7 linked regions of the Homo sapiens genome follow. The protein of the gene in region 4 purifies or fractionates together with the protein of the main gene of each other region. This does not show direct contact. Each region holds a gene or a part of one and is shown on either strand. Other genes may lie near its edges.

Region 1 (4,261 bases), on a different chromosome or scaffold from region 4:
TGCAAGGAGGGATTTCAGCATCACCAGGTCACTGTTGTCGAAGGACAGGTCGCTGGGGAGAGAAGATGCTTTCACCTGGGAGGAAGACGCTGGCAGGAGGAAGGCTGGGTCAGGGGTCAAACTAGGGTGGCATGGGAGCGTGTGGACACAGGCATGCAGGAGAGGCCAGGACGCTCAGAGGGAGGGCCGGGCGGGGAAGCCACATGTGCGTGGAACGGGACAGAGAGCCAGAGAGCTGCAGGGGTGGGTTCAGACGGCTTCGGCACAGGGTGGGGCGGCCTCTGCGCCCTGGGATGAGCACCACGCTCAGCAGCCCTCCCCGGCCTCAGGAGCAGCATATCTGACACGACACGGCCTTCCCAGGAACACCCTCCAGACCCCGCTGGACCCTCGCCGGAGGCCCGAGGCTTCCCTGCAGCCCGTGGGCACTCACTGGAGCGGGTCGGCGTGCTTCTGCAGGAAGGAGATGGCTGCTGGGGCATTGTAGGTAATGTACTTATGGATGAACTGCACAAACTTGTTGATGAAGGCAGCCAGATGGCGGGAGGACTTCCTGTAATTCTGCAAAGCAAAAGCGGCACCCTCGAGCTGCTCTGCCCCGCAGGGCCAAAACAGAGCCTGTGCTCCCATCTGCTCCCAGAGCCTCAGGGCATGGACCCCACAGCCAACGAGCCCCCTCTGCCAACCACTGGGGCGTCACAGGCCCAAGGGTGGCCGGCATGGCCTGTCAGGGTGTGGACATGGCTGTCTGGGGCATGTGCCCAGATGGATGAGGGGCTCGAGGTAGCACAAGCGACACGCAGAGAACAGCACGGAGGGTCTGGGCTGGGCTTCTGAAGGACGTGGGCCCCCCAGGCACGTGAGGGGCAGCAGGCAGGGGCTTCCCAGGGTGGGAGCTGGTCCCCAGGGCAGGTGGCCTGGCCTGGGCCCTGGCTGCAGAGGTCCTCCCAGTCCCTCCGCGAGTGGGTGAGGCAGGCCTGGGCCAGAGCAGAGGGAGTGGAAGGGAGCGCGAGGGCGGGCGGCGGGAGCACACACCAGCAGCAGGCGGATGAAGGACAGAAGGCAGTCCCACAGCGCCCCCTGGTGCTCGCTGCGGAACACGTGCGGCTGCAGCAGCTCCAGCAGGCCCAGCACGTGCAGGAAGCAGCTCAGGTGGTTCTGCTGCCGGAACTCCTGGAAGTTGAGGTGGGTGCGGCCGTGCAGGAGCGCCGCGATCATGGGCAGGTGCCTGCGGGCGCGGTGAGGGCCCAGTCAGCCCCGGCCGGCGGGCTCACCTGGCGCACGTCCCCAGGAAGGCCCCACTGCCTGCCCCGGGAGCCAGACCCCGTGCTGCCCCCCAACCACCCTCCTGCCCTAAGGAGGTGGGGATGAGATCGCCCCTCTCTGAGGCCCACCCAGCTCCTCCCACCTGAGGCCCAGCTCAGTCCTGACTTCCCCCGGTCAAGCTCAGCCCATGGGAACATGCTTTTTTTTGTTGTTTTTGGAGTTTTGCTCTTGTTGCCCAGGCTGGAGAGCCGCAGACCCCCCTGGTTAAACCAGTGTCTGGCGAGGGCAGGGCTTCTGGGACAGCACCTGAGCAGCAGCAGCGGGTGCGCCACCGCCAGCTTCCGGCAGGCCATGCTGGCATCCGCCCCTCGGTTCTCCAACGCCCGGGAGTCGCTGGTGTCCGCAAGGAGCGTGATGAAGCGGTGGATGAGTCCGTCCAGCTGCAGGGAGGGGCGCTCTGAGGCCGGGGCCGCTGGCTCCCCTCACTTGCCCACCCACACTCAGCCTGGCCGCCAGCTGTGGCCGTGATCCACCGCGTGGCACGCCATGAGCAGAGGAACTGGCTCCTTACGGCTTCCATGAGCACCTCGGGAGGGCAGGCAGGCCACAGCCAGCCTCTGGGAAAACCCCATACAGAATAAAAGCAAAGCTCCACACCAAATGATACAATGAGCGGGAAACAAGCCAAAACTACACATCGGCCAAGCAGGCGCAGTGGCTCACGCCTGCCATCCCAGCACTCTGTGAGGCCGCGGCAGAAGATCACCAGAGCCCAGGAGTTCAAGACTAGCCTGGGCAATGAAAATAGCCCTCTCTATTTTCAAAAATACAAAAAGAGTAACTGGGTGTGGTGGCACGTGCCTGTGATCCCAGCTACTCGGGAGGCTGAGGTGGGAGGCTCACTTGAGCACAGGGGGTTGAGGCTGCAGTGAGCTATGATGGTACCGCTGCACTCCAGCCTTGGCAACAGACACCCTGCCTCAAAAACCCTCCACAAAACTGCACATCAAGTGTGATTTCAACAAATAAAATGACATATAAGTGAAAAAAACCACAAGCAGAAATGATTAGAGAAAGTCAGCTGCCCTCTGTGGTACCAGCAGAAGACAGGCTGCAGGTTCCGGCCTGCGGTGGGGAAGCGGGTACGGGAGGCCCAGCTCTCCCCACCAGGGTCACTGGAGAGGAGCAGACGCAGCCGTCCGCCAAGACCCGGGCACGAGTCCCCAGCAGCTGTCACTGCCCCAAACTGAACGTGACCCCACGTCCACCAGCAGGTGAACAGATAAACCAACGGCCGATCCACACAATGGCAGGCCACCCAGTGCCCACAACACCACGACTCTCCAGACTGTGCGAGCAGAGCACCCGCAAGCTCCCTCGGTATAAAACTCAACGCAGACAAACCCACAGGGCCACAGGGCGGCGCGGACTGGGAAGGGGCAAGAGGGGTAGCCGGCGATGGCCATGTACACTGTGGCCTCCGCCCTCCCTCCCTGCCCGGCCAGGGCACCTGGGACGGCGGCGGGGAGCGGCAGAGTTGCGCCCTCACCTTGCAGACGCTGCTGCTGGCAGCCCCTTCGCTGTGCAGTAGGACCTCAGGCACGGGCACCCGCAGCTCCGGCCGCTGTAGGTAGAGCTGCAGGAGAAGGTCTCGGCAGCGCCTGCCCAGCACGCTGGAAGAGGTGGAGCAGGGCTCACCAGGCGGACGGGGCCCCAGTGACAGGGGTGGGTGGACGGGACCAGGCGTGATGGGAACCCACCCAGGGCTGGGCCTCGACCCCCTCCATGGCTCACTCCCAGGCAGCATCTGGGGCCGGGGGGCCTGAGCACCTGTCTCCCCACTGCTGGATGCAGCCTGACAGGTGCTCCGTCACCTTCCTGACACTCTCATCGTCCCCACAGCAGCAGCTGAGCAGCAGGGGCAGCCGGGCCTGGATGAGGCTGCAGGCGGCTGTGTCCCCGTCCTGGCTCCGCGTCTCCGCCTCGGCCAGGATCAGCTCCACCAGGCTGATGAGCTCCGGGCCCTGGACCCGCAGCACCAGCTCCTCCCGCCGCTTCTGTAACGGGTGCCTGCATCAGCCCCGGAGCACCACCGCCTCTCCCGGATGGGCCACCCCCTCTCCCGGATGGGCCACCCCCTCTCCCGGATGGGCCACCCTCCCAAGACCTGCCTGCGGGGTGCGCTGGTCCCGCCCCTGCCAGATGCGAGGAACATGGATGCAGGCCCAGAGGAAGTCCAGAGAGGCAGAGGGGTCGAACCTGTGGGGAGGCAAAGGTTCCAGAGCACGAGGTGTCTCGTCTCAGCATGGGAGATACCAGTCAGAGCCGGCGCTGGGAGATTTCTGGTGAAGGCCAGTATGCGCGCAGCCCAGGTTGGGGACAGGGAGGCGCCCACCTCTGTTCCCGGCTCTTGCCCAGCAGGACTCGGATGCACTGGTGCAGTGTGGGCCAGCTGGACTGATGCGTGAAGAGGGTCAGGAGGTAGGGACGGAACGAGGGCACCTGGGCCTGACCTTTGCCCTGGGGAGGGAGGAAGAAGCCCGGATGGCCTCACCTGGGCCAATGGCAGGCTCTGCTGAAGTCAGCTGACAGCTTCCCCAATGAGCCACTCAGAGAGCCGAGGCTTGGGGTGCTGCCGGTAACACCGGCCCCGTCATGGTGCTGGAGGGCCGCTCCTGGTGGCTGCGCTGCATCTCCCCGCCCCTTCCCACGGGAGCCATGCCACACAGCGGAGGTGCCCGGGGCTCCATGCAGCCTCTCTGGTGAGGCCGTCCCTCCCTGGAGGATGTGGGGAGCCCAGCACCTGCCCTCCCTTCTCCTGGCCACAGCCCCATTCCCTTTGGGAAGATGGAGGCCCCTACATGATCTACAGGGTTTGGCAGGGCCGACCCCACCCCATCCACCCACCCCATCCCCACATCTGGCTGGTCACAGTGCTGGTCCACAGGTGACTGTGACCCTGGCCTGGGTTCTGCTAGGGCCATTGGGGGACCTA
Region 2 (4,261 bases), on a different chromosome or scaffold from region 4:
CCCATAGCCACCCCAACCCACATGCCAGATGGAGCGGCCTGGCCAAAATGGCCCCACTGGGTGCTGACCTCATAGGACACTTTCAGGAGCTCAAAGATGTCCACCTCTGCAGGGGGGTCATCGCTGCTGCTCAGCAAGGCACGGAGGTGCGGGATAGGAGGAGAGACACTCTGCTTGTTGACCACATTATCCAGGTATCTGCAAAGGACAGAGGACAACAGTCCAGACCACGCCCAGGCAGAGGGAGCCTCCTTCCCACAGCTGGGTGATGCGGAGGGACCCAATCTTTATGCAGACTCCTAATAAGGAGTGTGCAGAGGACTGGGCACCCTGCAGGAGGGCAGAGGTGTGCCCTGGCAGCGCCCCCAGCAAGTTGGGGAGCCCTCTACAGGGCAGTGCCCCCGACAAGGCCTGAGCACTAACCCTGAGGACGCTGGGCTGTTTTCTTAGTCAGTGGGGGGGTCCCTTGGGCAGGAACGCCTTATAACCCCAGATCCTACCCAGTTGGAAGGATGACGAGCTTCCTCCCTTTGGCGGGGCCCTGGGGATGTGGGACCTTCTCGCCCTGGCCAAGAAGATTCAGGGATCAAAGGTTGAGTCGCAGGAGAAAGTCAGGTGTGGGGAGGCCTGCTGCAGCCCAGGGAATCAGCTTCTCTAGGGACACAGTCCTGGGGATGGAGCCCTACCTCTGTCAGCTGACCTAGCCCCGCCAGAGTTCATGGCCTCTCTGGGTCCCTGGGCTGAGCCTGACACTCAGGTGGGAGGAGGTAGCTGACTCCCCATGCCCATAGCCCTGGTCATATCCCCAGTCAGACCCCTGCTCTGGAGGAGGCCCTATCCGCCTATTGTAGGAAGCGGCAGGAAAACCAGCCACAGACTCCGGCCACAGGCTGAGTATCTTAACATCAGTGTGGACCAAAAGCTACTTAGGCCCACAGTAGGGAGGTGACAACCCTGCTGGATCTAGAGAGTCCCAGGCAGCACCTGGCCTGGCCATGGGCAAGTGGCAGAGTCCCAGGCTGTTCCTGGGGGCTGGGGGCATTCCAGTCCGGACAAATACGCTATGTAGGAGGGTGGGACTGCACAGAGCTCAGGGCAGGGCAGAGTGTAGCCAGGAGGGGCCGGGGCTTGAAGGCCAGGCTGGAGGCTCAGACAGTGCCTTTGTACAGAGGACCCAGGGAAGGGGCAGGGCCAGGTCTGATCAGAGTCATGGGATGCAGGCAGGTCAAAGACTGAGAGGGGAACCCCAGGGAAAGGGCATGGTGGGCCTGGGCTGAGGCAGCAGGCTGAAGGGAAGGGGCTGGATCCCAGACAGAATCTGCAAGAGATGGGATGTGGGGACTAAGGAGGGGGTGGAGGGGCTGGGATGACCCTGGACATTTGGCGTGACTAGTGGGACATCAGCTCATCCAGCTGTTCCAGCGGGCCCAGGGCAGGCCTGCTCCCTCCAGGGCATGGGGGCTGCAATGCAGCTGAGCTTGGAGAGGTATGACCGGGACCACCTGGTGGACATGAAATGCCCAGCTGTGCCACCAACTGGAATTGTGGTCACTGGATCTTGGCTCTGGTTTGCCCTCAGGGGAAGCATCTCCAACCCTACATCTGAGCGGTGGCCCTCCAGCCAGCATGCTCTGCCCGCAGTGCCTGCTTTACTCCTCCTGGCACCTATCACTGAGCGCTGCTTCATCTCCCACTAGAAAGGAGCCGCCTCCTGACCCCAGAGCACCCCCGGGTCCAGCTGCAGCCTGGCACTTGGTGGGCACAGTCACTTCAGGCTGACTGGACAGTGCCCGGGGCTGGTGAGGGGTTCTGCTGTGAGCCCCCAGCAGGAGAAGGAACCCGGCATGTCACCTGCCCAGCATGGTCATGGCCTCGCCCTCGTCGCTGCAGCCCAGCAGCTGCTCCATGTTGGCGTCCAGGACGGCCAGGGCCACCTGCAGGATCACCTTGATGCCCTCATAGAAAAAGCAGTCGACGATGACCACGGCGCTCTCGAAGGGCATGACGCTGAGGAAGAGGGTCAGGAACCAGGACAGCGAGATGCTGGAGATCACCCCCAGGTCCTGCATCTTCTCCGAGAGCTGCGGCAGGAAGTCTCTCGTGAGCTCTTCGAAGATGCCTTGGTCCACCAGGGCTCCTGCGGGCAGGATGAGCGAGGCTGATGGTGAGCCCACCCTGTGGCCTGGGTGGGCCCTCACCTGCAGCGTACGAGCCCTGGCCACTCCAGCCCTGCCAGCTGTGCAGTGAGGGCTGAGGGAGACTTGGAGTGCTGGGAGAAAACAAGGACGAAAAAACCCTTCAAGTCTCTCTACAGCTCCCAAACCACTGGGCGAAATAACTATTTCTTCTACTACACTTGAATTTTATTTTGGGGAAATACTGATTTCTCCGTAAGGCATGAGAGGTAAACAGCACCCTCAATGACTCTGTCCCATCCTGATGATTGTGAATAGACGCAGCTCTGAAGGACCCCAAGAGCGGTAACTCCAAACACCAGACAGCAGGGGAAGGACAGGATAACATGCTTAAATATGAACCTAATTAAACACTCTTGCAAGTCCATTTCCACTTCATAACAGATTTCACTGGATATGAGTTCAGTAAAGTTGAGCATCAGGTTACATGGGGGATATATACTCTCTAGTTTTGATGTTTGAAATTTTCCATAATCAAAAAGTTGACAGGAAGTTAGATGGATAGGAATTTAGGCTCTGAGGGGACTTTTATAAACCACCGAATGTGTAATACTACCCTCTAACTCCTAGGGAACCCACGTGAAGCCTGGAGCTTGGCCTGGGAAGGGCTGCCACCCTCATGGAACCAGCAGGCACCTGGAGACCCAGGCGAGGCAGCACCCGGGGACACTCACCCACCACCCTGGTGTTGTAGTAGTCGGGCAGCATGCGCTCGCACAGGGCCACCAGGAGCCAGAAGGCCTCCTCCTCACTGCCATAGAGCAGGAGCACCGAGGTCACGATGTTCATTGCCTGCCGGGCACAGAGACAGCCGGGGAAGGCTTGCACTGCTGGCCAGCAAATAAAACTGTCTCTCCCCACCCCTCCCAGCCACCCCTCCCTGCAAGGGCCCACATGATCTTCTTTTTGTTGTTGTTATTTTTATTATTTTTCAGGTTCTCGTGGTGAAGATTAATGGCCTCCTCCTACAAGCAAATCTGCCTCTTCAGGAGGGCTGGGCATCCGGTAATGAGAAACTGCCCCTACCCAACTCTGGGAAATGTCAAAAGGCAATTTGTAGGAAACTGATGGAACAGAGAGTCTGCCAACTCCTTCAAACTGGGTCAGAAGGCACTGGGAAACCAGAGAAGGTGAACATCAACACATCACACTTCTGCGGAGTGGTGTTGGGTGTTGGAGGTGGGATTATGACCAAGCTGATGTGGAGGTGAGCCACAAGGCCAGAGCCCCACACCAAGGCCACCCACTCGGTGCACAACTAGGACCACACACAGCCCTAGCTGCTAACAAGACCTTTAAGGCAAACAGAAAGCCATATGACTTGGCCAGGAAAATGCCTAGATTTAAAATCAAAAGCTGCGAGAAATGCTAACCTAAAGTACAATTAGATACCCTCATGCCCATCACTCTAACAACAACAGAATATAGCAAGTGTTGATGAGGATGTGGAGAAATCGGAACCCTTGTGAACTGCTGGTGGGAATATAAAATGGTGCAGCTGCTGGGGAGGAAGTATGGAGTTCCTCAAAAAATTAAAAATAGGCCAGGCCACAGTAGCTCACACTTTGTAATCCTAGCACTTTAGGAGGCTGAGGAGGTCGGATCACTTGAGCCCAGGAGTTCAAGACCAGCCTGGGCCACACAGTGAGACCCCATCTCTATAAAAAATACAAAAAGTAACTGGGCGTGGTGGTGTGTACCTGTAGTTCCAGCTACCCAGGAGGCTGAAGTGGGAGGATCGATTGAGCCCAGTAGGTGGAGGCTGCAGTGAGCCATGATCATGCCACTGAGATCCAGTGTGGGCAACAGAAGGAGATCCTGTCTCAAAAAAAAAAAAAAAAAAAAAAAAAGCCCAGGAATGGTGGCTGGTGGCTCACGCCTATAATCCCAGCACTTTGAGAGGCTGAGGCGGAAAGATCACTTGAGCCTAGGAGTTTGAGGCCAGTCTGGGCAAGACAGTGAGACCCCATGTCTAAAAAAAAAATATTAGCTGGGTGTGGTGGTACATGCCCTGGGAGGCTGAGACCGGAAGATCCCCTGGTCCAAGGAGCTTGAGACCAGCCTGG
Region 3 (4,261 bases), on a different chromosome or scaffold from region 4:
TCCTCATCTATTAATATTATCTACTTCATAACACTGTTTAGAGGATTAAAATCGTCCACATACAGAGTGCTTATGAAAATAGAGCAGTGAACAAAATAGTATTCAATAAATGTAGGCTGCTACAACAACACTTGGTTGCTACGGCTCTCATAAGTTTCCTCATTCTCTTCCAAAGATAGATTTTGTTTACAAAGGCCGGTCTAGCAACTAAGTCTCCACCAGTCATTGATTTTCTAGTTGAACAGGCTGCTCAGGATTTCCTCCTGTGGGAGGAGGAGGGAGAGAGGAAAGGGTTAAAGCATGTAGAAAGAGAGACAAAGCAGGAGATGCCTATGTGATATGAATAGCCCAATATTCAACTGACCCTGTTTTTTCAAAAGCCCCCCGACCTCCCTTTGTCCAAAACTGTCACCAAGAAACCAGCTGATGCCAGCTTCATTCTACTGTATCTGTCTTCATAACAGTTTTTGCTAAATGAACATAAGGCTAAGCTAAAAGCTAAAGCAGTGGAGAAGGAAGCACTTCCTTTTTTTTTTTTTTTTTTTTTTTGATATGGAGTCTTGCTCATGTCATCCAGGCTGGAGTGCAATGGCACGATCTCAGCTCACTGCAACTTCCGCCTCCCAGGTTCAAGCGATTCTCCTGCCTCAGCCTCCCCAGTAGCTGGGATCACAGGTGCCCACCACCACGCCCGACTATTTTTTTGTATTTTTAGTAGAGATGTGGTTTCACCATGTTGGCCAGGCTGGTCTCGAACTCCTGACCTTGTGATCCGCCCGCCTCGGCCTCACAAAGTGCTGGGATTACAGGCATGAGCCACCGCGCCCAGCCAGGAAGCAATTCTTAATATGCTTGCCTTCCTGTAGCCCTCTCCCTGGCTCAACTAACTCAGATACCAGTGCCTACAGCCAAGGATTCAATGCAGATGAAAACACACTTTCCATCTCATAATGGTTAAACACCAGGGGAGGAAACTGCTCTAAGCGATCCAACAGAAAAGGTGAAAATAGAGCTATCCATTTAGGTTCCTACATCCAGATTTCCCCATCCATTGTAAGTTCTGAAACATCATTAAGAACCTTGACTTAGACTCCATGACTTGATTCAACAGAACATTCTAGAAACTTTCTTCTAGTCTCTCCATCCTAAAAATGTAATGAAAATAAGGCAGGTGGCCAGGCACAGTGGCTCATGCTTGTAATCCCAACACAGGGAGACCCCGTCTCTACAAATAATTTAAAACTTAGCTGGGTGTGGTGGTGCACACCTGTGGTCCCAGCTACTCACGAGGCTAAGGCAGGAGGATAACCTGAGCTGGGGAGGTTGAGGTTGCAGTGAGCCATGATTGTGCCACTGCACTCCAGGCTGGGCAACAGAGTGAGACCCTGTCTCAAAAAAAAGAAAAAAGAAAGAAAATGAGAAAGGTCTTTTGGCTTTATTGGAATTGCCATTACCTCTGTGGATTTAATAAGCTTCAATTTAAGTGTTACATTTCTCATTTTACTTCCAAATTAATACTGACTGTTAAGGAGGCAGCCAGGGTATGTGAGCCCATATCACTCATGCTCCCAATGTCAGGAAGGAGGAAGATCTGTAACCCAAGAGAAGTTGCTATGTGGTGTGTTATCACAAGGGACTAGGATAACAGAAAACCCTGAAAGTTAGGACAGTGCTGGAGACCGAGATTTTTTTGCTATCCTAATGTCTTACATGTTTTAAATTTTACCCTTCCTCAAGAGACTTCTGTTTTGTTTTGTTTTCAGAACAGATAGAAACAGGGTCTCATTGTGTTGCCCAGGCTGCTCGAACCTCTGGGCTCAAGCTATCGTCCTGCCTCAGCCTCCAAAGTGCTGTGATTACAGGCGTGAGTCACTGTGCCCAGCAGAGACTTTGGAAATGATAACTTCACAGCCTCCTTTGTGGCACATGAGAAAAAGTATTGAAACTGAAATGCAAGTGTGGGAGAACTTTAGTGCGATAGGGTGAAATGAGGGACAGGTGACACTGTCAACTTGGCTTCTGCCCCAATCCTATCTGCAAGTGCTTTGGTGTCAAACACTTCAGCCAAATGTTTAACTGAAGTGTCCTTGGTGGGGAGCCCATAGAAATGGATCAAAAAGCTCCTTGAGGCCGGGCGCGGTGGCTCACACCTGTAATCGCAGCACTTTGGGAGGCCAAGGCGGGTAGATCACCTGAGGTCAGGAGTTTGAGACCAGCCTGGCCAACATGGTGAAATCCATCTCCACTAAAAAGACAAAAATTAGCCGTGTGTGGTGGTGGGCACCTGTGATCCCAGCTACTCGGGAGGCTGAGGCTGGAGGATCGCTTGAACCCAGGGGGTGGAGGTTGCAGTGAGCTGAGATCACACCACCGCACTTCAGCCTGGGCGACAGAGCAAGACTCCGTCTCAAAAAAACGAAAAAGCTCCATGAATGTTAGAACTATAGTTATGTGCTACAATGATGTTTTGGTCAATGATGGACTGCATGTATGACAGTGATCCTATGAGTATAATAGAGATGAACAACTGCATGTTGCGTTACTCACATGCTTGTGGTGATGCTGGTATAAACAAACCTACTGCACTGCCAGTCATATAAAAGGACAACACAAACAATTATCTACAGTATACAATAATTGATCATAAGCAACTATATTACTGGGTTATGTATTTACTATACTACACTTTTTATCATTAATTTAGAGTATATTCCTTCTACTTACAAAAAAAAAAAATTTACTGTAAAACAGCCTCAGGCAGGTCCTTCGGGAGGGATTCCAGAAGAAGACATTGTTATCCTAGGAGATGGCAACTCCATGTGTGTTACTGCCCTTGAAGACCTTCTAAGTGGGACAAGATGTAAAAAGGTGGAAGACAGTGATATTGATGATCTTGACCCTGTGTAGGTCTAGGCTAATATGTGTTTGTGTCTTAGCTTTTAACAAAAAAGTTTAAAAGCTAAAAAAAAAAAATAAAGTAATTTTAAGAATAGAAAAAAGCTTATAAAGATATAAAGAAAAAATTTTTTAATGAGCTGTACAATTTGTGTTTTAAGCTAGGTGTTATTACAAAGGAGTCCAAGAGTTAAAAAAAATTTAGTTTATAAAGTAAAAAAGTTACAGTAAGCAAGAGTTAATTTATTATTATTATTATTATTATTATTTTGAGACAGAGTCTCACTCTGTCGCCCAGGCTGGAGTGCGGTGGCACAATCTCGGCCCACTGCAACCTCTGTCTCCCAGGTTCAAGCGATTCTCCAGCCTCAGCCTCCTGAGTAGCTGGGATTACAAGTGCCCACCACCACGCCTGGCTAATTTTTTAAATTTTTAGTAGAGATGGGGTTTCACCATGTTGGCCAGGCTGGTCTCAAACTCCTGACCTCAAGTGATCTGCCTGCCTCGGCCTCCCAAAGTGCTGGGATTACAGGCATGAGCCACCGCGCCTGGCCAAGGGTTAATTTATTATTGATGAAAAAAATTTTTTTATAAATTTAGTGTAGCCTAAGTATACAGTATCTATAAAAAGTCTACAGTAGTATACGGTAATGTCCTAGGCCGCCTATTCACTCACCACTCACTCACTGACTCACCTAGAACAACTTCCAGTTCTGCAAGTTCCATTCATGGTAAGTGCCCTCATACAGGTATACCTTTTTTTTTCTCTTTTATACTGTATTTTTACTGTACCTTTTCTATGTTTAGATATGTTTGGATATACAAATTCTTACCATTGTGTTACAATTGCCTACAGTATTCAGTACAGTAACCTGCTATACAGGTTTGTAGCCTAGGAGCAATAGGCTACACTATATAGACCAGGTGTCCGGTAGGCTATACCATCTAGGTTTGTAGAAGTATACTCCATGACGTTTGCACAACAACTAAACCACCTAATGACACATTTCTTGGAACATATCCCCATCATTAAGTAACACATGACTGTATTTTCTGTCTCGGTCCTTCTGACGTTTGATATTTCTTAGCTTTCTATTTATTTACTTTTTTAACTGCCAGTATTTTTTAGATTCTGTTTTCTGGCTTCTAGTCCCCAAATTCCTATCCTTCCACCATATTTCTGAAAGCTTTTATGGTCACTATTTCTCGAGCCCCATAAGATTACTAGAGGAGTGCTGAGAAATGAGATCCTTTTGATCCGATGACCTGGTAGGTAACAGAAAATAATGAAACTCTGATGACTTGACTAGGGATTCAACCCCTTACTGGCCTCTAATTCCAGTATCAATGCTTCCCATGTTCAACA
Region 4 (4,261 bases):
CGTGCAGCACCTTGACCACCTGATCCTCGTTCTCCCGTGAGAGCAGCAAGCCCCGGGCCCCCAGACCCATGGCTGCCTTGTGATAATCTAAAAGAAGAGATTAAGTCGGATAGTGGCAAGGACTCAGCCCACCGCACATGCAGCCAGCCCAGGAGAGGAACACAAGCCCAGCTGGGACTGAAACAGCCTCCTGTCCTCCCAACCTCGCTGAGGCCCCCTCACCAGTGTAGGCCAGGCCACAGGCCACGTTGCTGCCCAGAGAGGGCACCTGCTCCCGAGAAATCTGTGTCCAGCCAGCATCATTCCCTACCAAGGCCATCACTGGGATCTACAGGAAGATGATGAAGGCAGGCCGCAGCCTTCAGCCCCATGGCTTGGCCAGCCAGAGGACAGAGACAGGGATAGGGCCTCTGCCAGAGAGGAGGCTCCCTCCCCACCTCAGCCCACCCCTGGTGACATCTCCCAGAACCCCAGGCCCTAAGCTTCCCTCAGGCCAGCCCAGTCACCTTGTGTCTGACGAATGTATCAAATTCGATGAGGCTGTAGCCAAAAGCTCCGTCCCCAAACAGGCACCAGACCTAGTCGGGAGGGGACCCAGGATGGTTAGGGTGGATCAGGACCTAGAGAGCAGCAAGTCTCCCAACTCCAGTGCCTCACCTCAGCATCTGGCCGGCACAGCTTGGCCCCAAGTGCAAATCCTGCACCAACTCCCAGAGTCCCAAAGGCCCCTAAGAGGACCAAGAGCAGGTGGGTGTGAAGGCGTCCTGATGGATGGTGCCCACTGCCCCAGGCGGGGGCCCTTCCTTACCAGGATCGAGCCAGCGCAGGGGGCCGCGGGGCTGTACCAGATGGGCAGCAGTGCCCACGAAGTCCCCGCCATCCACCACCAGAATTGAGTTGTCAGGTAGCGTTTCCTCCACCAGCTGCAGCACCTGCACTGGGTTCAGGTGCTGGGCCACAGGCATCGCTGCCTTCTCCCTGCGACAGGACAGCGAAGGTCACCAGGGTTGGCAGCAGGGTCTGCCGGGAACCCCCTTCCCACATCCACTCCACCCAGGCCCCACCGAAAGGTCTGCTCCTTCTGCCGGTCGGCTTCCCGCAGCTCCTCCACCCAGTCTGGGGCCCAGGTCTGGCCCTGAAGGCCCTCCACTAACTTCAGCACGAAGGAACCCACATCTCCTGGGGAAGGAAGAGGACACAGCTGTGGGGAGCTGGCTTCCTCCTGTTCTTCCAGCATCAGAGGCCTCAAAACAGCAGGAAGCCAGCAGCAGCATCCGAGCAGGCAGACGGGAAGCAGGCCAGGGGTGCTCCTAGAAAAAAAACAGGTGAAACACCCCAGAACCTGCCAGAACCAGGGGAGGGCAGCCCAGGTGAAAAGGGAAGACAAGGCCCAAGAAACAAGGGTTAAGGAGCACAAGGCAGGTGACAAACCCAAGCTGGCCTCGTCCCCTCCCTCCACCTCCTTCTGCCTGGGAAACACTCAATGAAAAGAGCTACATCCACCAAGCACATCTCTCAAATCCAGGCACGTGGAAGCGCACAGCGAACGTTACTGAAGTGAACTAACAAACAGCCCCGTGATGTATCTTTCACCACCCCATTTTTCAAATGATCAAATGGAGGCTCTGAGAAGGTGAGGCTCTGCCGCTGTTCATCTCCAGTTCAGGCCTCCTCGCTTCTGTCCTGGCCATTTTGAGCAGCCCCCCTGGCCTCCACCCAGCCCCCTTCCGGCCTGCCGTCCATGGCTGCTGAGTGGACCTTCCCAACACAGATGCAACGGTGCTACTTCTCTGCTTAATACAAGAGTGTCCTGTCGCCTAGGCTGCAGGGGAGTCAACATCCTCAGAATGATGAACCAAGTTCAAGTCCAAGGGGACTAAAATAAGGGGAGGGGAGAGATACGGCAGGAAGACAGGCTAAGGGGCCAACGAGTGTGCTCTCTGTCCTGAGGGCAGTGGGCAGTGTGGGAGGGAACGTGATCACATGCACGTTTTCAAGCCTCCCTCTGTGTCCACCCCACCATTTGTTCCTACAGAAGCATCTATCAGGCCGGGCGCAGTAGCTCTGGTCTGTAATCCCAGCACTTTTGAGAGGCCGAGGCAGGAGGATCACTTGAGGCCAGGAGTTCCACGCCAACCTGGGCAACACAGTGAGATGCTGATTCCACAAAAAAAAATTAACAAATTAGCCTGGCATGGTGGTGCATACTTGTAGTCCCAGCTACTCAGGAGGCTGAGGTGGGAGGATTGCTTTTGAGCCTGGGAGTTTGAGGGTGCAGTGAGCTGTGATTGCACTACTGCATTCCAGCCTGGGTGACAGAGCGAGACCTCGTCTCTAAAAAATAAAAATAAAAAAAATTTAAAGAAAGAAGCATTCATCAGTTTGAGAGCCAACTATTTGTCTCTGGTTGACTGGCTACCCCTAGGGCAAGGTCTGGGCCTCAATCACTGTACCAGGCTCAAGCCAGCTGCAGCAGAAACCAGGAGGAGAGGGACTGGGAGGAGCACATATGTGTACGGGGGGATTAAGGGGCTCACCCTGCACAGCCTCCTGGGGCTTCCAGAAGATGTCTGAGTTGAGCAACATCTCTTCCCGATTACGATTGACGATGATGATCTTGCTGCTGTGGCTGAGGACACGGCCATAGGATAGGCGGAAGTCACACACAGTTCCTGGTGTGGGGGACAGGAATGCAGTAGGCAGAGGCCCCATGTCGTCTACCTTACTTGATCCACTGTGGTGGACTGGATGCAAATGAGTCCCTGTTCCTCACCGAGTCTCCCTGCACCTGTGCCACCTACAGTGACCTTGCAGCTCCCCACACCCCCTGAATCGGGACTGGCCTCATGACATGCTTTGGCCAACAGGATAGGGCAGAGGCAGGTTATATTTTCCCAGATGGCCATAATATCTCCCACCCTACATCCATTTGTACAAGGTCACCTTGACATGCCTCCCATGGAGAGAGGTGCAGCCTAGGTCCCCTTTCCTTGAAAGTGACACACCATGACACCCAACAAGGAAGATATGCAGTTTCTTCCTTGTTCACTTTTAGAGGCCTGGGTGGGGCCAAGGAATGTGCTCTCTGTCTAAGAAGTCTGACTACCCTGAGGCCATCATGCTGGGAGGAAACCGGAGCCACACATAGAGACCTGTGTAGTTGCCCTAGTCCACAGCCCCTCCAACAGCTGGCGTCAATTGCAAGACCTCTGAGTGAAGACACCTCCAGATGATTCAGGACCCCCACCCCCCATTCCTGCAGACTCTACTTCAAGAAGCCACACAGCCTCCACTCACTCTCTTGAATAACCGCACTCTCCTAGCCCCATAGTTTTCTCATCCTTCACCAAGTCGGCCAGCCCAGGCTAGCCTACTGGAGGATGAGAAACAAGGGGGCCATGGAGACAGGGGTGAAGAACTCTATGACCCCAGCTGAGGCCATCCCAGACGAGCTGCAGGGCCAGCCAATCCCCATACAGGTGAGCAAGCCCAGCCTGGATCAGCACAGCTGCCTTCCTGCCTAACCCAAGTGCAGACTCATGAATGAGCCCAGCCAAAACCACAGCTACCACCTACCTTATAGGTGGATCTTGAGAAATCAGAAATGCATTTTTAGCCATTGAGTTTGGGGATGGTTGTTACAGGGCAGTAGCTATCTGATACACCTATTATGCGTCTGGTTGGGTTCAAAGCGCTTTATGTGAAAATGTGTATCAAGTACAATAGGTGCCCACTAGACCTTCCTCCTCCTTCGTGTGAAGCTGGGTAACAGGGTGAGGGGGTTCCTGGGGGAAGGAGGGAAAGGAAGAGGCTCAGGCCCACCTGCTAGGACAATGACATCCGCCTTCTTCAGGGCCGCACTGCGGTTCTCCCGGATGTGGAGGGGGTGGTTGCGGCCTAACAGCCCCCGTGCCATCCCTCCAAGGAAGCAGGGAACACCCAAGGTCTCCACGGCAGCCCTGGGAGTCCAGGCAGAGCAGAGGTCAGTGTGGCCGGGGCCTCCCGCCTCCCCAAGAGCACCCGAGGACTGGGGACTGGGAACGTGAAAACAAGGGCAGGGCTGGCGCTTCTCACCGAAGCTTGTCGGCAGACGTTGGGGTGAGCAGGGCCTGACTCCCCAGCACCATCAGAGGCCTCTTGGCCCGGCTCAGGATCTCCACACAGCGCTGAACCTGGAGCGAGAGGTGGGGATCAAAGGGCTGTCTTTTTATTTATTTATTTTTTTGAGACACAGTTTCACTCTGTTGCCCAGGATAGAGTG
Region 5 (4,261 bases), on a different chromosome or scaffold from region 4:
ATCTTCAGACCAGCCTGGGCAACATAGCGGGACCCTGTATCTACCAAAAAAAAAAAAAAAAAAAAAAAAAAAGCTGGGTGTGGTGCCACACACCTGTAGTTCCAGCTACTTGGGAGGCCAAGGTGGGAGGATCGCTTGGGCCCAGGAGTTCAAAGCTGCAGTGATCCCTGATTGCATGACTGCACTCCATCCTGAGCAACAGAGAGGGACCCTGTCTCAAAAAAAAAAAAAAAAATCTTCAGTGCCCTTTTCATGCTCCGGTTTTGGATTCAGTGGCCTAATTCTTGCATTTTCTGACTGCAGGCATTGATGACGGGGAGCCTTCCTGGCTTTGTCGACGTCATCAGGAACCTCAATTCTCCTGCACTGCTGGAAGACAGTGTGATAAGACAAGCAAAAGCAGCTGGAAAAAGAATAGTCTTTTATGGAGATGAAACCTGGGTTAAATTATTCCCAAAGCATTTTGTGGAATATGATGGAACAACCTCATTTTTCGTGTCAGATTACACAGAGGTCAGTTTTTAAAATAAGAAAATATATCATACTAGAATATCATACTAGATAGAGCCTGGCATCCCATTACTTAGTGAGAGATGATACCATTTTATATTTGGTTTTATTAATTTATAGGGAGTACTATGGACAGGTGTAAAAATTATTCACTCACATAATCAGTTAACAACCCAGAAATACAAACCTGAAGCAGGTGTGAGCAGAGTTTTATGGAACCCAAAGCTTAGAACAGCTGAGTGCCATTGAGGGGCAGAGAGGATCAGGAAGGGTGACACAGCCAAGGGACTGTCTGAGCCGAGATATGATGGGTGAGTGGGGACTCCCCAGGTGGGCAGAACAGGCTGGTAGCTTCTGCACATGGCAGAGCTGTAGGACTCCACAGCCTGTTGGTTCTGCTGCAAGCGGAGCCTCATCGTGCCCTGAGGGCAGGTGGCCGACTGGGTGGGGCCTGGTCCTGAGGGGGTTTTCCTGGAGCTTTTCCAACAAAAATTAGACCTGCATGTTAGAAAGCAGACCTGGGGCTGAGGTAGGAGCACACCAGCACACCTGCCTGGCCTGGGGTTTAGCCAGCTTCACCTCCTAGATGGCTGGGCCTTATGGAGCATCTGTAGTCCTATCCTGTTCCAAAGTGGGGCGCTTTTCAACAGTTACTTTTCAGTAATGACTGAGTTTTCCTGACTATATATGGCATCACTGAGAAACACTTCTCTTCATAGGAGATTTTTTTAGTGGGAGGGAGATGAGCTAGCTGAGGGGTCAGGGCTCACCAGGCTGACAGCTCTATTGGGGGCTGATCAACTGCTCATCTCTCCTCCGTGATGTGTTTATTTCAGAAATCAATGTGATCATTGAGTGCTGTGTCTTTTTCAGAACAGCCTTCTTGTAGGACACATGTAGATGCCCTCAGCTTCATCATCCTGCTGGTTACTTTAACGCTGGGTACTGTCCTGTCTTTAATTAACTGCCCTTTGCCCTTAGTTACCTCATGACAACTTGGGATCTATTTAACTTGCCCATTTGCTCACCTTCAGTTATGCCCATTAAGCCCAGCAGTGATCCCACAGAAAAATATTTTTGTCAGAAGAACCCTTGCTCATTTAAATTATCTGTAGAATATATTCGATCCATAGCCCAGAAACATAAAAACAATATTAGCAAAAGTTTAATCCAATGCTAATGTTCATTTATTTATTATAGACGTGGGGTCTTGCTATGTTGCCCAGGTGGGTCCTGAACTCTTGGCCTCAAGCAGTCTTCCCGCTTCAGCCTCCTCAAGTGTTGAGATGAAAGGCATGAGCTGCTGTGTCCAGCCTATTTATTTATTTTTAATGACATAGATTTTGTTGTGTTTCAACTCCCCCAAATCCTGTAACCTGAATAAACCCCTAGATTTTAAGATGACTGTTGCGTTTTCCCCGGGGAGTGAAGATCCAGGGAAATTAGGTGAGTTGTTTATACGTGTGTTTCCCCTTCAAAGGTGGATAATAATGTCACGAGGCATTTGGATAAAGTATTAAAAAGAGGAGATTGGGACATATTAATCCTCCACTACCTGGGGCTGGACCACATTGGCCACATTTCAGGGCCCAACAGCCCCCTGATTGGGCAGAAGCTGAGCGAGATGGACAGCGTGCTGATGAAGATCCACACCTCACTGCAGTCGAAGGTGAGGCTCGCCGTCGCTCACTGTCTGCTGATGTGGTTTCACGTGGATGTTCCCTAGAATAAATGCAACCGCCTGAGTTATTCAGGGTGCCTGTGTGAATGTCCACCATCAGTCTGCTAGCCAGGGGCCGCATGCCACACGGGCAGCACTGTCTCAGTGTCCACTGCACTGACTCCGTCTTCCAGCAGCCCTGCAGAACAGCAGCTCTCACTCCTACCCGTGTATGCATTCATTCAACTAATACCTCCTGAAGACCTTTTGTGCCACTCTCTCTGTTCTGTATCACTCTCTCTGTTCTGTGCCACTCTGTTCTGTGTCACTTTCTGTTCTGTGTCACTCTCTGTTCTGTGTCACTCTCTCTTCTGTGTCACTCTCTGTTCTGTGTCACTCTCTCTGCTCTGTGCCACTGTCTCTGTTCTGTGTCACTCTGTCTGTTCTGTGTCTCTGTTTCTGTTCTATGTCACTTTTTGTCCATGCATTTGGGTGCATCAGTGAAACAGTCGATAATCCCTCGTGAAGCTCACGCTCTAGCCAGGAGAGATGAGAAAGATGAGTAAATAAGTATGTGAGGAGGTGATGGGTGCTGCAGAAACTCAGAGGGCAGGAGGAGGGGCTTTCAACAGCGTGTTGAGAGAAGCCTTCCCTGAAGACGTGTGCAGGGTGAGCAGAGACTTGAAGGGAGGGAGGGGCAGACCATGTGGTCTGTGCACGAGTGTTCCAGGAGGACCAGCAGCGAGGGTCAGGCACAGCCTGCCTGGCTTGTCCCGGAGCAGCAAAGGATGTGTGGCTGCAACCCCAGGGGCAGAGAAGCCTGGTGGGTGCCCCCACATGGCTCAGAGCTCTTGCCTTTTGCTGTGTGTTGTGTTCTCACCAGAGTCCTGTGAAAGATTCCATTTGACAGATGAGGCGACCAAGGCACAGAGTAGAATGCGTCCAGAGTCTCACAGCTTGGCAGTGGCAAAGACAGAAACCAGATACAAACCGTCTGCCATCAGAGGGCAGAAATGCAGCCTGCTGTGCTCCATGAGCTGTGTACAATTCTGTGAACTTCATTTATGGCATTATTTGACTGTGACCCTGTGATCTGGCTATGAGCTCATAGGAAAAAAAAATCTAATTCATTGAGAAAGAGCTACAACTCTATAAAGTAAAGCTAAAACCGAAAATTGTCTTCTTAAGATGATGTGCTCTCTTCAGTCTGAACGCAGTTGAAATGTTTTTCCTTTGCCTTAAAGGAGAGAGAGACGCCTTTACCCAATTTGCTGGTTCTTTGTGGTGACCATGGCATGTCTGAAACAGGAAGTCACGGGGCCTCCTCCACCGAGGAGGTGAATACACCTCTGATTTTAATCAGTTCTGCGTTTGAAAGGAAACCCGGTGAGAATTTAGGAATGTTAACAGTTGGAAATTGTATTACATTTGTTTTCTATAGTCTGGTTTTAATTTTGAAAACCTATTTTTTAGAAGCTCCATAAGGTTGAAGTCCCCAAGCAATGTGAGCATGAAAAGTAATTGGGCAAAAGGCTTTTGGGATCTGAAGTTACGTTCCTTCCCGAATCCTTAAAATACAGTTATTCTTTGTCAGAATTTTGTTGTATGAATGTTGCTGCCTGGATATCTGGAACTGTTGAGAAAAATTGCCAGTAGCTCAGAGACATCTGGACAGCATGTGTGAACTGAAGGAAACGTGAATACCTCGGCTTTTTTAAAAGTTTGCATTATTGTAAACCATCTATTGAATAGCAGTGTCAACAAGAGTCATGGGACCCGGCCAGAGCAGGACAGACAGAGGCCCCGTCTGTCAGTATTCAGACACGCCCCAAACACACACACACCCCACTCTGACCTGTGCCCAGACTCAGCCGCCAGCCTATGCACTCTGCCCTCGCGGCCGCCGGCCTTGCTGTCCTGTCGGCGGCTGCCTTCCACTTGCGCCTGGCTTCTGCTGCCACACTCGCTGCCTCACTCTTGGTGAGCTCAGCGGTAATTTCTGCCGTCAGGCACAGCAGACGCTTTCGGGCGCTGCTCTCACTGACCCTTCAGCACCCTTAGTGCTGCTGGTCCCGTAGCTTCTGGGACCTC
Region 6 (3,413 bases), on a different chromosome or scaffold from region 4:
CAATCCATCATGAGACCCCACCTCCCTGTCCTCCAGCGAGACTTCAGGCCACGGAGGGCCAGGTCCTGCTGCACATCGTGGGAAGGAATCTATTCCCTAGCAGGTGGGGGAGGTGGAGCCCACACTTCCCACCCTGGGGGGCAGGGGGAGTGGGTGCCACAGGGGCCACAGGAGTCAGGCAGCCTGGACTCCAGCCTCCCTCCACCACCAGGCCAACCATCAGCAACACCCCCTCCCAGCCTCCAGCCTCCACCAGTACCAGGCCAACCATCAGTGAGACCCCCTCCCAGACTGCAGCCTCCCTCCATCATCTGGCCAACTGTCAGTGAGACCCCCTCCCCTCGCTGAGTAAGAGCAGTCAGGGAGATGCCATTAGAAGGTGGGAGACGCCAGGAGCCAGCCCACTCCAAGCCGCACTGCCCACATTCCCATCAGGATGCACCTTGCTGGGAACCCGGCCTCAAGGAGGCTGTGAGTAGCAAGCAGCTCCCCAGCCAGGGTTTCTAGAACAACAACATAGGCATTTTATTTCTTTTCATTAAGCTTCTTAGTTTCTTAGTATCACAATGGAATGATGAGAAAACAACAAAAACGTGAGTCTTTGCAAATCTCTGACAAAGAGCAGAGATCTCAAGGCAATTGGGGCGGGGGAGGCTTGACAGAAGTGCCAGAGCAGTTCCAACGTCACATCTCTCCTTGGCTGGAATGGTGAGAAGGTGGCACTGTCGTGAGCTGTCCTTGGCAATTCTGCCCCATGAGCCACGTGCGCCTGGTCTGCATGGGCCACCCCGCGGGATTTCCTGGTGCCTCCTAGTACCTGGCCACACACCCCTCCGCCTGCTCCAACGCCCTGGGAGCACCGTCCAGTGCTCAGGTGGACCCAGAAGCCAGCTCTGCTGGGCAGCGGCAAGATGTGGAGGAGCGGCAGAGGCAGGCAGCGTTGCTTGCGGTGGGAGAAGCCAAGGAGTGTGACCAAGGCCCATCTGGGAGACATCTGTGGTGGAAGGTAGGGCTGGCGCAGGTGGCAGCAGCAGAAGTCCGTGTCCCCAGGCAGTAGCAGGCCTAGAGCTTCACAGTGCCAGGGGGCAGGCTGTCGTTGCAGAGTCTGTAGTAGCGCAGGTCGTTGACCAGCCTGTGCACATTCTGGGTGAATGAGGGCAGGTCCTGGAAGGCAGGGGCATAGCTGCAGCCAACAACACACCAGGTCACCCACCCACCAGACCCCAACAGCTACTTCCATCCCAGAGTGTGCACTGAAGATAGGGGAGCACTTTCTAAAACTCAAAACTTCTATTCACTGTTGCACTGCGTGTCACAGAGACTCTGTGCCAGGCGCTGTGGGAGAAAAAGAACAAGAGGAATACGTCCCTAGGGCCTCTCGGGTGCCAGACACTGCTGCAATCAACATACAGACATCAACTCACTGAGTCCTCACCACAAGGCTGCCACCAAGCCCTACCAGAACCACTAGTCTAAGGACAGAAAGACCAAAGCGCTGCACCATGAAGAAGCTGGCCCCAGCTCACACTGAAGAGACCAGCACACTTGCTCCTGAGTCCGGCCCCTCAAACGCAGACATGGCTGTGGTGACAGCCCTCTTCTTCACCATGGCCCCTTGAGGTGACGCGCACACCGAGCAATGTCTGCAGAACCTTTACCCACGGGGCTCCAGGCCGCCCCTGCCCCTCGAGAGCCACCCGAGCAGCAGCAAACACAGTCCCAAGGCCTGTCCCACTGGGCGCAGCGTGGGCCATGGAAGGCCCTGGGCCAGAAGTGAGGCCCTGACCTCCGCCATCATGCACACGGTGAGACCCTGCTTTTTTTTTCAGTGTAGGTCCCGGTGAGGACTCAAACAGGCCCAGCAAGCCCCAGCAGAGCCATGAGCAGGACCAAGTTCATTTTCCTGCCCAACCACTATTCCTCTTCCAGAACTCCATTCAAAGCCTGCCTCTTCCCAAAGTCTGCACAGATGCCTCCTATTTCCTGGCCCCAGCAGCCAGCTCAGCGCCTCTGTCCTGAGCAATCTGCTTCTGGGGAGTGTGTGCAGGCTCTGGGGCCAGAACACCCAGGTCTGCCTCCTGCTTCGCAGCTCTACCACTTCCAAGTTCTGTGAACTGCTCACCTTCTGAGCCCCCACCATCTGTGAAATGGGGGAGTAACAGGACCCACACTTCAGAGGCTTGTTAGAAGGCTTACTCGAGCCAAGACATGTCACATGCTTGGCACTATGTGGTCCACAGAGGGTGCTGTATTGGCCTGTCTACCATGAAAGACTTGGTGAAGGCTGGGACTGGTGCCCCAGTTCCTGGCCCGGGGCTTGAGAAGCAGCTGGCTTCAAACACACAGTGCGTGACTGAATGGAAGGTGGTGATTCTTTTATTTTACCCTCAAAAAACCAACTAAGGGATGTCTTTTAAATCAGTGGCTCCCAAATGCCAAACCAGAATTTCCTGGGTAGAACACAGAAGTCTGTTTCTCCATTTTTAATAAGTACCCCAGGTGCTTCTGATATAACTAGATTTTTTTTTTTGAGACAAAGTCCCACTCTGCCGCCCAGGCTGGAGTGCAGTGGCACAACCTCCGCTCACTGCAACCTCTGCCTCCCGGGTTCAAGAGATTCTTGTGCCTCAGCCTCCCAAGCAGCTGGGATTACAGGCGTGTGCCACCACACCTGACTAATTTTTTTTATTTTTAGTAGAGACAGGGTTTCGCCATGTTGGCCAGGCTGGTCTCAAACCCCCTAACCTCAAGTGATCCGCCCGCCTTGGCCTCCCAAAGTGCTGAGATTACAGGTGTGAGACACCGCGCCTGGCCTATAACTAGATTTTGAAACCACAGCTTTAAATCAAAAAGTTGACTGATATTGATGTCGTTAGAAGCTGATCATTAAGTATTAGGATCTGGCCTCTAGAAAAAGGAAAAAACATATCCAGGGGCTGAAGTGAACTGGAAGAGGCTTAGGAGAGAACAAGTCCCAAGAAAAGGAAGACCCCAAGACAAAGGAGAACAGGATGAGTCTAAGCAAAAGCTTCCCTGCCACACGTGGCAAATGAGGAAAGCAGGCGGCCAGGTTTGCACCAGTGAGAGCAGTGTGTGCATCTGAGCACTACGGTGGAGCCGTGGACAAGCTGCTTCACAGAGGACTCAGGTCAAGAACCCCAAGAGGACCAGGGAGAAAGCGATTTCTTTTCCTAATTTCATCAAGTATAAAACGGTACAAGGAAAAGTTCCCAGAAGTTCCTATCAGGCAAGAGAGAGGCCTGGTCACCTGACACAGGAAGAAGAGAACAGGTGAGCCCCATGGGGAAGGAGGTCCCAGGCACTGTCAGGCTCCAACAAGATGGCCTCATGGACACCAAGAGCCAGCAGCACCCAGCTCCCACCGAGGTGCTGCACGGGTGGGGACAGCCCAC
Region 7 (4,261 bases), on a different chromosome or scaffold from region 4:
TCCGCCTCCCGGGCTCAAGTGATTCTCCTGCCTCAGCCTCCCAAGTAGCTGGGACTACAGGTGAGCGCCACCATGCCTGGCTAATTTTTGTATTTTTAGTAGAGATGGGGTTTCACTATGTTGGCCAGGCTGGTCTTGAACTCCTGACCTCGTGACCCACCCGCCTTGGCCTCCCAAAGTGCTGGGATTACAGGCATGAGCCACTGCGCCCGGCCTAACTTCTTGGCTATCTTATTATCATCAGTCAGCCTTTACACATTCTATCCCAGATGCTTTGAATGCTGACAGATGGATTAAACTGCAGTCTGCACCAGGTTATATTATAAAAAGGCACATCTGTCATATCTACATTAGGCTGTGTATCTGAAGGCACAGAAAACACAACCGCAATCTTCCACTCCTTTGATGGTGGGACAGCAAAAGAACCAGCTTGAGGAAAGTACTGTAACACCATGCTAGTCAGTGCAGTCCATGGACCGACAGCACTGGCATCAGAGCTTGTTAGAAATGCAGAATCCTGGATAAAAATGCTGATCCATCTTGGACCAAGATTCTGCATTTCCAACAAGCTCCCAGGTGATGCTGATGTTGACGGTCTGCAGGGCACACTTCGAGAAGCAAGGCTCCAAGAGACAGCTGCCCACATCTTTAATTTTACCGTGAACTGCAGGGAGAGGATGGCATTTTATCATTCTGTATCACCAGTGTTTAATATAGTGCCTGGCATATTGCAATTGCACTGACTCAATAAATAATTGTGCCTGAAAGACTGAATGAATACAACTCTTTCAGAAAGCGTAGCTGAGAGAAATGCAACCAGTGTGAGATCTTGCTGTCTCCTCCTAGAACATTCTGATCCGTGCATGAGATGTGGCTGAGGAGTAGGGGCTCCTCTGGAACATGGATACTTTTAGGAATGTGAACTCAGATTCATGGTCTTAATTATATACAGTCATAAAAGAAGACAGAAAATTCAGTTGTGCTTTTTTCTTGTTTTGACAAGGTACATCATCTCTGTCTGTAAATTCACATTACAATCCCACATGTGTACCTTTGACTCTTAAAGTAATGAAATTCATATTACAATCCCACTGGTGTTTTAAATCTGAAAGTAACAATGCAGAAGAAACAGTCTGAATGTGTACTGCTTGTTTCAAGTGATCATTCTATAAGCATGTCAGGTATTAACATGTTTTGAAAAAGATGGTCTATTAAAATAGTTACTAACATGTACAAATGAAACACACTAATGAGTGATGCTTTGCTTCTTCTGGAATCCCACAGTTGGCTCAACATCCTATCCCTTCACTTTAGCCTACTGGGGAGACGATGTGGGGAGAGACAGCTTTTGGTGTTCTTGCCAATAAAAATGAAGAGCTGTAGTCCTGGCATTAAGGAGGGAAAAAGTTGGTAAAGTGCATTTGTGCCTCCTCTGTGTATGTGTGTGTGTTTGCAGGGGCATGAAGGGAACTGCAGAAGGGCAAGGAGGTGAAGCTTCTGTCTGTTGTGGGGGGTAGACAGGGGATAGAACTGTAGGTAGGGCAGATACTGAATGCCTCTGCCCAGTTCATATGCAGATACCACCAGAAGAGAGAGGAGGGAGGCAATAACCAATTTGTTTCACGCTCCCCATCTGCATGTTCAATGGCCAGTGAAATAGCTGGGCCTGGAGCTTAGAAAAGAGTTCCACATTGGAGGAATAGATAACGAGAGTCATTGAGGGTCATGGCAGATATTGCCTAAAGAGACTGTGTTGGGCAAGAATAAGGCTGAGGATAGAATCTTAAAGAACACAACATTTAAGAAGAGGGCAAGTAGGTTGGGCGTAGTGGCTCACGCCTGTAATCCCAGCACTCTGGGAGGCAGAGGTAGGCGGATCACATGAGGTCGGGAATTCAAGACCAGCCTGGCCAACATGGTGAAACCCTGTCTCTACTAAAAATACAAAAAAATTAGCAGGGTGTGGTGGTGGGTACCTGTAATCCCAGCTATTTGGGAGGCTGAGGCAGGAGAATCACTTGAACCCAGGAGGGGAGGTTGCAGTGAGCTGAGATTGCGCCACTGCATGCCATCCTGGATAACAAGAGCGAAACTCTGTCTCCAAAAAAAAAAAAAAAAAAAAAGAGGGCAAGTAGAGAACTCACTCATCGAACTGAAAAGGAGTGGCCAGAAAGGTAAGAAAGTGATGTCATGGAAACCAAGGAAGGAGAAAGTTACAAGGAAAGTCGATCTACAAAGGATCAGGAATGGAAGATTCACCTGGATTTGGCAATCATTAAGGGTGAGTGACCATAATCCAGAACCAAAGCCAGAACAAGGAAGGCAGGAGAGATCATGATTTCAGACAAGAGGCTTAAAAAGAAAGAAAAAACATAAAAACCAAGACGATTATTAACATCACAAAAAATGAAGAGAAACCCCCCATAATCATAGTATCCTATAATACTAATTTTCAATATCCTTTGCATAGGCATTTAGTGTATTTGTTTAACCAAAATTGTTAAAATAGATATATTAGGATGATGAGAAAGAGAAGTAGTGGAAGTGCCGGTATGACAGTTCTCATTTATTATAAAAAGATAAGAAGAAGTCAACAAATAATGCCTCATTTTGTTTAATTAAAAAATAACAGCAATATAGTAACTATTAATATGAAATATGGAAATGTGCAAGTAGCAGAAGAGACGCTAAAGGGTTTCTCCTTTTTTGGGAGAAGGATTTTGAAGAGTAAGGAGGGGTAAAGAAGGAAATTGGTATACTTTGTAATGAGCCTTTTACTATTATTTGGCTTGTAAAACTATATATCTGTTATTTTAATATACATTTAAAAACAGAGAAAAAGCAGACATAAATACATCTAAAGATTGGCAAAGAAGAAGAAAAAAATGATGACACACATGAATATTCATTTATTAGACTTGCCTTTAATGTCCCATAGTGGTGATTACCTTGAGGGTATTTGGGGGTAGTGGTGACTAAAAGAAGGAAGGGAGGGTTTGGGGAATATGGGGAGTGCTGGTAATGCTCTGACTCACCTGGTTACACAGGTGTTTTCACGAAGAAAAAATTCTTATGTTTACTTATGATTTGCATACTTTTCTGTATGTACACTACATTTCAATAAAAATTAATTTAAAATTATTCCCTGTACTTAAGAAAACCTCATAAAGTGAAGTAAAAATATGTAGTGTTATTTAAGTACATTAATAAATGAAGCTAATATTCAATCTTAAAAAGTGGTTCTAGAGTGATATCAACTTTTTTTTTTTCTTTGAGACAAAGTCTCGCTGTCGGTCAAGCTGGAGTGCAGTGGCGCGATCTTGGCTCACTGCAACCTCTGCCTCTTGGTTCAAGCGATTCTCCTGCCTCAGCCTCCCGAGTAGCTGGGACTACAGGCGCGTGCCACCATGCCCGGCTAATTTTTTCTGTATTTTTAGTAGAGATGGGGTTTCACCGTGTTAGCCAGGATGGTCTCGATCTCCTGACCTCGTGATCTGCCCGCCTCAGCCTCTGATAGCAATTATTTTTAAAAACCATTACAGTAATTGTATAACTTACTGGCTAATATTATCATTTTTATTCCCACTAAGTCAGAAAATTCAAATTCTGGTTATCCAGACTGACTGCAAAAGCAGTAACTTTTAATGTAACATATATATAACCTTTCTTTAGAAAATAGATATTTGAGATTAAAAGGAGTAAAGAGTGTTACGATAGTATTTCTTTGATTAAATGAATCACCCATGAGTACAATTTCCTCTTGGGTAGTCTACAAATTTACCAGCACTATACCCCTTTGCCTCATCAAAAGTGAAAAAAAATTTAAATAGGTGAATGTTTTTACCCACTGTTACATGTAAATTGTTATAAGTAATTAACCTATCAGCAACAAGTCAAAACTATAAATTACTACATATGTAATAAGTGGCTCAAGAGTAGAAAATTGAAGTTTAAGATTTTAGAGGTGGAATGACTCTTGGGGAAACAGGACCCAAGATATAGCCACAGGGATGGGTTGTCACTGAAATAAAGACTAAGGCCTCTGTTATGTCCAAAGTACTGGAGATATTATCTACCTAAACACCAAGTATCAAGATCAGCTAGATCTAGAATGGAGAGGAGGATACATAGTTGCTGAAGTAGGTCATGAACATGGGGAAGGGACTAGGAGCCTGGTAAATAGCAGTAATGAGCACAGGCTTTCTGTCCACTACATTACAGAACTGTTCCATCAAAGGGGCCAATATACAGGTAAGAGGTT

Evidence for each region.
Region 1: the proteins of HACL2 (region 4) and INTS1 purify together in Homo sapiens (co-immunoprecipitation; 3 studies listed by BioGRID and IntAct, with this or other methods). This does not show direct contact.
Region 2: the proteins of HACL2 (region 4) and TBC1D9B purify together in Homo sapiens (co-immunoprecipitation; 2 studies listed by BioGRID and IntAct, with this or other methods). This does not show direct contact.
Region 3: the proteins of HACL2 (region 4) and TNPO3 purify together in Homo sapiens (co-immunoprecipitation; 2 studies listed by BioGRID and IntAct, with this or other methods). This does not show direct contact.
Region 5: the proteins of HACL2 (region 4) and PIGG purify together in Homo sapiens (co-immunoprecipitation; 2 studies listed by BioGRID and IntAct, with this or other methods). This does not show direct contact.
Region 6: the proteins of HACL2 (region 4) and XPO6 purify together in Homo sapiens (co-immunoprecipitation; 3 studies listed by BioGRID and IntAct, with this or other methods). This does not show direct contact.
Region 7: the proteins of HACL2 (region 4) and TTC27 purify together in Homo sapiens (co-immunoprecipitation; 2 studies listed by BioGRID and IntAct, with this or other methods). This does not show direct contact.

What each region holds. Positions count from the first base shown.
Region 1 is NC_000007.14:1,473,133-1,477,393, forward strand, and holds part of INTS1 (integrator complex subunit 1), read right to left. Parts: intron 3,787-4,261; coding exon 3,662-3,786; intron 3,526-3,661; coding exon 3,438-3,525; intron 3,324-3,437; coding exon 3,097-3,323; intron 2,940-3,096; coding exon 2,816-2,939; intron 1,707-2,815; coding exon 1,573-1,706; intron 1,229-1,572; coding exon 1,036-1,228; intron 562-1,035; coding exon 434-561; intron 53-433; coding exon 1-52. UniProt on the Homo sapiens protein: Component of the integrator complex, a multiprotein complex that terminates RNA polymerase II (Pol II) transcription in the promoter-proximal region of genes.
Region 2 is NC_000005.10:179,873,051-179,877,311, forward strand, and holds part of TBC1D9B (TBC1 domain family member 9B), read right to left. Parts: intron 2,988-4,261; coding exon 2,870-2,987; intron 2,138-2,869; coding exon 1,852-2,137; intron 199-1,851; coding exon 69-198; intron 1-68. UniProt on the Homo sapiens protein: May act as a GTPase-activating protein for Rab family protein(s).
Region 3 is NC_000007.14:128,957,612-128,961,872, forward strand, and holds part of TNPO3 (transportin-3), read right to left. Parts: intron 1-4,261. UniProt on the Homo sapiens protein: Importin, which transports target proteins into the nucleus. Specifically mediates the nuclear import of splicing factor serine/arginine (SR) proteins, such as RBM4, SFRS1 and SFRS2, by recognizing phosphorylated SR domains.
Region 4 is NC_000019.10:15,115,344-15,119,604, forward strand, and holds part of HACL2 (2-hydroxyacyl-CoA lyase 2), read right to left. Parts: intron 4,173-4,261; coding exon 4,075-4,172; intron 3,960-4,074; coding exon 3,823-3,959; intron 2,673-3,822; coding exon 2,538-2,672; intron 1,180-2,537; coding exon 1,065-1,179; intron 979-1,064; coding exon 809-978; intron 729-808; coding exon 658-728; intron 579-657; coding exon 507-578; intron 329-506; coding exon 223-328; intron 88-222; coding exon 1-87. UniProt on the Homo sapiens protein: Endoplasmic reticulum 2-OH acyl-CoA lyase involved in the cleavage (C1 removal) reaction in the fatty acid alpha-oxydation in a thiamine pyrophosphate (TPP)-dependent manner. Involved in the phytosphingosine degradation pathway.
Region 5 is NC_000004.12:505,415-509,675, forward strand, and holds part of PIGG (GPI ethanolamine phosphate transferase 2, catalytic subunit), read left to right. Parts: intron 1-303; coding exon 304-513; intron 514-1,990; coding exon 1,991-2,179; intron 2,180-3,414; coding exon 3,415-3,556; intron 3,557-4,261.
Region 6 is NC_000016.10:28,097,476-28,100,888, forward strand, and holds the end of XPO6 (exportin-6), read right to left. Parts: intron 1,165-3,413; coding exon 1,063-1,164; 3' UTR 501-1,062; downstream 1-500. UniProt on the Homo sapiens protein: Mediates the nuclear export of actin and profilin-actin complexes in somatic cells.
Region 7 is NC_000002.12:32,805,791-32,810,051, reverse strand, and holds part of TTC27 (tetratricopeptide repeat protein 27), read right to left. Parts: intron 1-4,261.